Regions from separate parts of the Homo sapiens genome. Here regions 2 and 3 are each reported to be linked to region 1. Evidence: microRNA targets listed by miRTarBase, many of them from high-throughput screens and not tested one by one. Region 1 holds a microRNA gene; each other region holds the end of a gene's coding sequence.
Evidence for each region. The annotated mature microRNA hsa-miR-519b-3p reads AAAGUGCAUCCUUUUAGAGGUU and lies in region 1 at 1,462-1,483, opposite strand. An mRNA with a match to its seed (bases 2 to 7 or 8) in the 3' UTR can be bound and repressed. Matches are read on the target gene's strand: a 7mer-m8 pairs with bases 2 to 8, a 7mer-A1 pairs with bases 2 to 7 and ends in A, and an 8mer does both.

Region 1 (3,260 bases):
AAAGCATAATTCCCACATATTGGTGCTTTGACAGCACACACAAATGAATGGGGTGACAGAGATTTCCATAGCCCCCGCACATAGGTGACACCCAAATTCATAATGGGTCCCATATTCAAAATTAGGAAAAAAGGCTGAGTGCAGTGGCTCATACCTGTAATCCCAGCACTTCGGGAGGCCTACGTCGGCAAATCACCTGAGGTCAGGATTCAAGAATGGCCTGGCTAACATGGTGAAACTGTGTCTAAAATACATATATATATATAGCTGGTATGGGGGTACATGTCTGCAATCCCAGCTACTTGGAAGGCTGAGGTTGCAGTGAGCTGAGATCACACCACTGCAGTCCAGCCTGGGAGACACAGAGAGGCTCTTTCTCCAAAAAAAAAAAAAAGAGAATTGCTTGAGTCCAGGAGGCAGAGGTTGCAGTGAGCCAAGATCACACTAATGTACTCCATCTCGGGTGACAGAGCAAGACTGTCTCAAATAGTCAAAGACAGAAAAAAAGAACAGGTCTCGCTCTCTTCTTGATTGTGTATGGGCTCACTTAAGGTCAGGAGTTGGAGACTGGGCTGGCCAACATGTTGAAACCCTGTCTCTACAAAAAAAAAAAAAACGAACAAACAAAAAAAACACAAAAATTAGCCGGGCGTGGTGGTGTGCGCCTGTGATCCCAGCTACTCGGGAGGATGAGGCAGGAGAATTGCTTGAACGTGGGATTGTGCCACTGACCTCCAGCCTGATGGACGGAGTAAGACTCTGTTTCAAAAATCGATGAGTAAATAAATAAATAATAAAAATACAAAAATTAGCTGGGTATGGTGGCTCATGTCTGCGATCTCAGCTACTAGGGAGGCTGACTCAGGAGAGAATGGCTTGAATCTGGGAGGTGGAGGGTACAGGGAGCGAAGTTCCTGCCACTGCACTCCAGCCTGGGTCACAGAGCAAGACTCCATCTCAAAAAAGAGGACCGCTGGGCACAATGGCCCACGCCTGTAATCCCAGCACTTTGGGAGGCTGAGGTGGGTGGATCTTGAGGTCAGTAGTTTGAGACCAGCCTGGCCAACGTGGTGAAACCCTGTCTCTACTAAAAATACAAAAATTAGCTGGAAGTGGTGGCAGGCACCTGTAGTCCCAGCTACTTGGGAGGCTGGGGCAGAAGAATTGCTTGAACTCAGGAGGTGAGCTTGCACACAAGATCGCGCCATTGCACTCTCGTCTGGGTCACAGAGCAAGACTCCGCCTCAAAAAAAAAAAAAAAAAAAAGAGGACCGTTTGAGCCTAAAAGATCTACGTTGGAAGTGCTACCCTACTCCAGCCTGGGCAAGAGAGACTCTGTCTTAGAAAAAAAAACAAAATAAAAACAGAATCCCACCATCATCCAAGTCTGATGATAAGCATGCTCTGCAAATGTATTACCAAGATCAGCATCAACTTCACTGTTGCTTTCCTCAAACAGTAAACCTCTAAAAGGATGCACTTTCTTTTCTTTCAGACAACAGAAAGCGCTTCCCTCTAGAGGGTCACAGCATGGGATCTTCTTGCTCCAGCACCCTGGGTTTTTTGTAGAAATTTTCCTTGACCAGGTTAAAATAGAGACAAAAATAAAGACCTATTTATTGGCTCTGTTTGCATGTTTTCTGGAATCCAGAACATAGACCCCTAAAAAGACCATCTCCCGTTCCTTCCTACAAAGGCTCAGCAGGTTAGCCTTGTTCATCAAGGGGAAATCCTCCTGAGTTTTGTGTCCAGAAAGAAAAAGCAATGCCTACTATGCATACCTTATATTTAACCAAGAGAATTGGGCTGGATTTCTAGAGAACAGCAGTGGATTTTCAGCCAAGTGTTCACTTGATTTCCAGCACAGGGACACACAGTCCTGATTAGAGCAGTCAAAATGGAATCTACCATGTTGAAGAATATACATTGTTGCACACACAAACATCCTCCAGGATAGACTACAAGGGAGGCCTTAAAAGCTCCTAAAGAAACCCTGTCTCTACTAAAAATACAAAATTAGCCAGGCATGGTGGCGCAGTCCTATAATCCCAGCTACTTGGGAGGCTGAGGCAGAAGAATCACTTGAACCCGGGAGGCGGAGGTTGTGGTGAGCCAAGATTGTGCCACTGCACTTCAGCCTGGGCAACAGAGACCCAGTCTTAGATAAAAAAACAAAAGAAAAACAAAACCCCAACATCATCCAAGTCTGATTATAAGCGTGCTCTGCAAAGATATTACAAAGATCAGCATCAACTACAACGTTGCTTTTCTCAGACAGTAAGCCTCTAAAAGGAAGCACTTTCTCTTCTTTCAGACAACAGAAAGTGCTTCCCTCAAGAGGGTCACAGCCTGACATCTTCTTGCTCTGATGCCGTGGATTTTTTCCTGGAATTTTCTTTGACCAAGTTAAAATAGACACAAAAATAAAGATGCATTTATTGACCCTGTATGCATGTTTTATGGAATCCAGAATATAAAACTCTATAAGGACCATCTCCAGTTCCTTGCTTCAAAGAATCAGCAGGTTAGCCTTGTTCATCAAGGGGCAATCCTCCTGAGTTTTGTCCCCAAAGAGAAAAAGCAATGCCTACTACACGTACCTTTAACCGAGAAAATTGGGCAGGATTTCTGGAGAACAGCAATGGATTTTAAGCCAAGTGTTCACTCGAGTTCCAGTACAGGACCCACAGTCACGAAGGGAGCATCCAAAATGGAGTCTACGATGTTGAAGAATATACACTGTCATATGCACAAACACTCTCCAGAGTAGATCACAGGCTAGGATGTAAAAACTACTCAATAAAATTTGAGCAGAAATACACAAGTACAAGTGGGGCCCAGTGGCTCAGACCTCTAACTCCTCGAACTTTAGGAGGCCCAGGCAGGAGGATCACCTGCCTCAGGAGCTCGAGACCAGCCCCGGCAACATGGCGAGACCCCATGTGTACAAAAATTACAGAAGTTAGCCAGGTGTGGTGGTGCATGCCTGTAGAGACTAATTCAGCAGGCTTAGGTGGGAGGTGGAGGTTGCAGTAAGCCGAGATTGCACCACCACACTCCATCTTGGGTGACAGAGGCAGATATTGTCTCAGAAAAGAACCACACACACACGCACACACACGCACACGCACACACACCCTAGGTGATATCGGAGTATTCTCTGTGTTTAGAAGAGTATTTTGTGTGTACATAATATATAAGAATATAAAATGAAATATACATCATGTATTTTTGAGACCCTGTCTCAAAGAAAGTTCCAA
Region 2 (3,260 bases), not on the chromosome of region 1:
GTCTTACATGGCAAGAGCAGGAGGAAGAGAGTCGGGAGGTGCCACACACTTTAAAAAAAAAAAAACAGATCATGACCACTCTCCCACTATAAAACCAGTACTAATGAGGCATGGTGCTAAACCACTCATGAGAACTCTGCCACCATGATCCAATCACCTCCCACCAGGCCCTACCTCCAACACTGGGAATTACAATCCGACATGATTTTGGGTGGGGACACAGAGCCAAACCGTATCAATGGCCATGCTCATGTTCCAGTTTCTGTGGTTGTAGGCAATGCTTGGTGTTCCCTGGTGTGCAGCTACATAACTCTAATTTCTGCCTCCATCATCACACAGCAACTTTTCAAAAAAAAAAAAAGAAAAAAAAAGAAAGAAAAAGAAAAGAAAAAAGTAGTAAGGAAGATAGAGTTGTACTCATGTAAGGCTCAGGTTTTGTCAGTTATAAGTTAATGACAACAGGGCAAAAGGAGTTTAAGATATTGCCATGATAGTGGCAGAAGTATTAAGATGACAGATCTGAGCTGGATGGAGAGGTAAGTGAAAAGGTTACTAATGGAACTACTAATGAGAATTAAAAAACTGGCATATTGGGTTTGACTCTCAAACTTTCCAAAGCTCTTCGTATTTATCTGCTTTAATCCAACAGTTTTATCACCAACTATACAGTGTGCTGTGCTACACTGCAGGGGGATGCAGCCGTAAATAAGACAATCAACACTGATCATTTTGTAGAAAAGCATGAAGACTAATAATATTCATTTATCTTATCTTTTAGAGATGGGGTCTCAGTCTTGTCACCCAGGATGGAGTGCAGTGGCACAGTCAAGGCTCACTCCAGCCTTGACCTTCCAGGGTTAAGTGATTCTCCCACTGCAGCCTCCCTAGTAGCTGGGACTACACACCACCATGACTAGCTAATTTTATTTATTTATTTTTTTGGTAGAGACAGGGTCTCCCTATGTTGCCCAGGCTGGTCTCAAATTCCTGGGCTCAAACATTCCTCCCACTTAGGCCTCCCAAAGTGCTGGGATTACAGGCATAAGCCACCCCACCTGGCCAAAACTAGTAATAGTCAATAGAATGATCAGTACAATTAATAAGATCTAGGTACAAGGTAGTAAAAATGTGAGAAAGGATACTTTTCACCTCATGGTAAGACATGGTTATCAGGAAACATTCTTTAAAAACTGCCTTAAATAGCTCTTGAGACAGCTGCAAGTAAAGTTGGGATGAAGAAACCATTCTGAGTAGCATGAATAGCATAAAAAAGCATAAAGCATAGCGAAAGCCTAATCAGAAGATAAGGCTTATGGAAAAACAATGCAAGGTAGGGCTGTAAAGGTAATTTAAAGCCAAATTAGAGAGAGCCTTAAATGTGGTAAGGAATCTGGACTTCATTCAGTAGGCAGTGGAGGGGCAGTTCAAGTCTATAAACATGATCAATGATGTGCTCTAAAAAGAAACCATTTTGTTTGGGGTGAGGTTCAGGCATCATCTCAAGCTTCTAAAGATGATGATCAGAATCAGATGATTCTAACATGCCAGCAGGGTAGAAAGACACTAGCCTAAGGAAAGCCTATGCATATCTCTCAATCTTCATCAAACAAAATTTGGAAGAAACCACCTATTACTAGCTAAGTTTGACCTAGCAAAATCAAAATTTAAAAAGCAGACCATTCCCATAACAAAAGAAAAATAGATATTGAATATATACAATTTATTTAATAAATTAATGTCATTCAAAATACAGTGCCAGAACATGGTGCAGTTGAACATGCTAGTAATGTTTGTCATGAAGCACCTGTGCTCATGTTAGATTGGCGGCGCCCCACTACTGCTAGTGGTTCCTGGGATTAATGCCAGAGCAGCGCTAGTTATCTGCTCTTCTGCACAGCTAGTGCAGAGAATTCCTGAACAGTTCACCTTACTAATCCTAACCCCCACACGCACACAACAGGTTAAAAAAAACACACCCTGACAGCTAACAGATCTATACACAATCACTCTACAGTAATGCTTGTTATTAAATTAAGATGTAATGACCTGGTTAACCCACTCTAAATCTTGAAGATGGAGAACTACATCAGCAGCAGATAGTTATATGCATGAGCCAATGTTAACATAATACAGAAAGTGGAGGCTTTTTCTGATTAAAGCTCCACGCAGACCCGCACAATGAGTGGCTGGCAATTCTTACTGCAAGCCTAGCAACTTAAGTCCACACCTGGTAAATGACCAGCTGACTGGAAGACCTGTATTCTAGATAGACAAGTATAAGTTAGTGAAAAGAGAATACATGCACCTAATAGTATAGTTAGACTGATCCTGCAGTCATAGCTTTCCCTGTGTAATACCATAAAATTATGGAAGATCTTCCTCAACTAGAGTATAGGATTTAGACATTTCTATACCAACACGGACATTAGTGTTAAGTGCAGTTGAATTAATTACACTGAAAACTGTATTCCAGGACTTCAGAACAGAAGCACGGGAATGAAACACACATACTAAAATAACCTCAGCACAATTTGTGATACATCACACTAGGAACAGGAAACTACTTTTATAAATGAACTTTTTGAACTGTACATACACAGGGCTAACAATGTTAGATAATCCAGATTCTTATACTCTCATGATTACACATAAAGTTTCTCAATTATTGAATAATCTATTTCATATTATGGAAGCATATCTTTCTGTAAGACTCACTGATATATATTATACTGATGCAAATATTAAGTAGGGCATAAAAATAAAATTTATCAAAGATAGAATTTTATGTACTCATATTTAGTTCTTTCATAGCCTCTTTTGTTTAGCAAAGAAAATGACAAAGCACATAACTCAGGCGTGCACTCCCTGAACTTCCCCACTATACAGGTGGTAGTGCAACCATTTCTCCATCCAGTTCAAACTCTTCTGTCCCATCCGTTGAAAAAAGATAAGTTGGTGGTTTCCATGGAGACTCTTCAAGGCAGGATGGATAGAGTTTCCCCACAGTGCATCGAAAATCTCTCCCCAAGTCCCACAGTACACGTTCAGATATATGCTGCCGCAGAGACCACCGGTCAAGTTCCAGGTCATATTGGTAGGTGACGTATTTAGCTCGCTCATTTAAGTGGGTTTCTCGCATAAACACACATAGAGAATTTGAGATCACAACAGCTCTAACACAGGGGTCAGAGTACCTCTTAGCAGGGATGTTGGCTGCCATTTTCCACTCATTTTTATTCACATCATAAATTTCCACAGTT
Region 3 (3,260 bases), not on the chromosome of region 1:
AGGTTTTGGGGGAATCCCCTGGTGATTTGTTTAAAGGTGGATGATAAAATCTTTCCCAGTCATTTGGCATGTATCTCAATTGCCAACTTCAGAATAGCTTTGTACAGTTTTAGTTGTCTATAGTGGTTTGTTTTTACCCCCTTTTAGGTTAGTTGGTGATGATTGAATCTGTTGTGATAGCAACTTGATATATAATTTAAATCAATCTGCATTTTTAAATTAAATCTTCCTATGATTCTTTTTTCCGATTTTAGGTTTTCATTGATCATTTGTTTGCTTTGTGATTCCAGCCAGAGAGATGACACGGGGGAAATTCCTCAATATTCTAGAGAAGCCCAAGAAGTAGCAGCTGCTTGCGGACAGGATGTCCTGGGGTCCGAAACCAAGCTCCCTTCCCGGTGCACCTCTAACAATGCACACCTCACTGCTTGCTTGGGAGAGGCCAGAGGGTGTACCTCCAGGACTGCCCTCTCCCCTGCTCCTGGCACTCTACACGTCTGAGGACATTCAGCAGCAAGAGAAGAATCTGCTCTACCCAAGGATCATTGCAGTTACTCAATCAACTTTCAGACTTGAACCTTCTTAGCCTCGGATATTGGTAACAGCTGAGGGCATATCATTCTTAAAGGTCGAAGTCCTGCTTTCTCATTTCTGGAAGTGATTCAGGAGCCCCAGGATCTTACGGTTGATTTGACTCAGTCATGGCAGTCAGTTGTGACATGTTGATTGGATGGGTTCTTTTGAATTGTTCTTGATCTCTTAGAAAGTGTTTACGATGTGAGGAGACCAGAGACCAAGTAGATTCTGGACCAGACCATGCAGCCTGACCTGTGAACTCTCCAGTATATACTAAGTTCCCAGAATCCCCAGCTGAAGAAACCAGAATCTTCTCGAAATGTATATCTGTTTTTTAAAACTTCTATACCTCTTATGATAGTCCCATTTGCTTTTCATTCCTTACTTCCCAGCCCCACCTTCTAGTTCTGACTTCGGGCAGAGGGATCCCTGAGTCCCTCCTGGAATTAGCTTGTATAGTGAAAGGCCCATCCAAGGTTGTCTAAAGACCAATGTGAAGGTGACAGAAAGGACTTTTGAGTTCTAATTAATCTGTTACAGCTTCAAGCAAGAAAGTCAGTATAGCCTGAAAGACAAGAGAAACGGGATGGTTTATAGGAGTTCCCATTTGGTTGAAAGCTAGAAGCCCTAATTGACCTTAAAGTAACATGCTATGGGATGGTGGGATTGTCCCCTCTGACAGCACATATGAAATAGTTCATCTATATAATAGAAACGCACACACACGAAAAAGAATCTTCTGACTTAAATACAACTTTCATGGAGTTCTTCACCACTTATCTGTCTCTGTTAAAATCTGAAAATCTAGCCCATGGCTAAAATCTATTATATGTGTTCTCCATATTTCTTGTATAAGCCAGTCCCCAGCATCTGATGTTTTGAGAAGTGCATGGAGTTTCCTAAACTTTGCACAAAAGAATATCCTGGGGCCGGGCATGGTGGCTCACGCCTGTAATCCCAGCACTTTGGGAGGCCGAGGCAGGTGGATCATAGGTCAAAAGATCGAGACCATCCTGGCCAATATGGTGAAACCCTGTCTCTACTAAAATACAAAAATTAGCTGGGCATGATGGTGCATGCCTATAGTCCCAGCTACTTGGGGGCCTGAGGCACGAGAATCGCTTGAATTCGGGAGGTGGAGGTTGCAGTGAGCCGAAATTATGCCACTGCACTCCAGCCTGGGCAACAGAGTGAGACTCTGTCTCAGAAAAAAAAAAAAAAAAAAAAAAAAAAAAAGAATATCCCTGTGGCAATAGTCTGATGGTGTTTGGACACAAGAAAAGTTATGGTTTTGAGTCGTGAGTGTTTGCTAGGGCATGGCACTCTTCAGTTTAACAGCTGATCCATTAAACCTTTTCTGACATTTGTGCCTTGTTCTCATGCTAGAATTAATGCTGGATTTTTCTCTCATTTGACCATCAATGTAGTTTTACTTATTGAAAGGAAAAAAGACTTAACACAAGATAGGAAAGATGAGTATGAGAAGTAAAACATTCTGCTGGGGTGCTACATAGAAGGTTAGGTTGTAGGGGCTTTGATTTTAATTTAAACTTATTATCGATTGATATTTCTGTATCTCACTAAATGCGGTTGAAGAGTGTGTGTGTGTGTGTGCGCGCGCGCATGTGGCCAAAAAATAGTGCCATAATGTCAAATTCTTCCTTTGCTCTGTTTTTGAGAGTTGATGACATCAGGCACTTTTCAGTGTTTGGGGAAATTGATTGGGATACCTCCCCCAAACCAACTCAAGTCTGTAACTGGAAGCCAGGTGGTTGGTTTTCTGGTCCGCTTTGTCCTCTTTCTTTTACCGTCATCCTATTCACCAGCACTTAATGTAAGTAGATGTTTTAGAATTGCAATATTTATTGGTTTAGTATTTGTCATCCTTAGAAATGTTAATGATGTATTTTTATATTGATAATATAAATTTATGTACAGTATGTGTGTATATGTATTTCAGGATGTTATAGTATTGTACTTTGTATGTGATGGTTTTTGTGTCTTCATAATAAATATGTCCCTTTTACAGGAGGGTGAGTTTTTCCTCAGAGGGCCGAGTTGGATATTTAAAGCACAGACCTCCCCAGAAAGTACAACTGTAATGATAAATAATCTACTGTTTTCCCCCTTAATATACTTAATGGATAGTTGGGGGCTTTACAGTCATCTACTTGGTCTCCTGCCTTCCATTCTATCCTACCACTGCCCAACACCCGAAAGTAGTATTTAGAAACCCTTAATACCTTCCCGTGTCTACTAATAAAGTCTCAATCTCTTGACCCGGCATTTTAAGACTCTCTACATGTAATCCTAAGCAACCCTTCCGTTTCGTTTTCTTCCTCTCCTATATATGAAGTCTCTGTTGCAGTTACTCTGAACAGTTCCCAGTTTCTCACTTGAGTGCCTTTGCTCCTGCCTTTGAGTTCCTAGAAGGTCTTGGATCCCTTTTGCATCTGGCAAACCTATGCTTCCTATAATCTCCTGATGATCCAGCTGGAAATGGTCCTTCCCCTACATTCCTATAGCATTTACCCATATCATCCCTGTGACTCTTACCATAGTCTGCCTTATATTTAAGTGGTCTGAGTACTTTTTCTTTTTGAGACAGAGTCTCACTCTGTTGCCCAGGCTGGAGTGCAGTGGTGCAATTTTGGCTCACTGCAACCTCTGCCTCCCGGGTTCAA

Region 2: the mRNA of KBTBD2 is a reported target of hsa-miR-519b-3p. Seed matches in the 3' UTR shown: 8mer at 2,433-2,440.
Region 3: the mRNA of LIN52 is a reported target of hsa-miR-519b-3p. Seed matches in the 3' UTR shown: 7mer-A1 at 2,402-2,408.

The regions. Positions count from the first base shown.
Region 1 is chr19:53,693,486-53,696,745 of GRCh38, reverse strand. It overlaps MIR519B (microRNA 519b), which reads right to left and starts at 1,533; the gene lies at 1,453-1,533. It overlaps MIR526B (microRNA 526b), which reads right to left and starts at 2,353; the gene lies at 2,271-2,353. LOC107985342 (a long non-coding RNA gene) reads right to left here. Exons shown (of 3, transcript XR_007067332.1): 3 at 2,124-2,717.
Region 2 is chr7:32,866,467-32,869,726 of GRCh38, forward strand. KBTBD2 (kelch repeat and BTB domain containing 2) reads right to left here. Exons shown (of 4, transcript NM_015483.3): 4 at 1,706-3,260. The coding sequence ends at 2,879. Among named protein-coding and RNA genes, the nearest start is that of KBTBD2, 24 kb to the right of the region's middle.
Region 3 is chr14:74,198,632-74,201,891 of GRCh38, forward strand. It overlaps LIN52 (lin-52 DREAM MuvB core complex component), which reads left to right. Exons shown (of 6, transcript NM_001024674.3): 6 at 291-2,862. The coding sequence ends at 346. Among named protein-coding and RNA genes, the nearest start is that of VSX2, 39 kb to the right of the region's middle.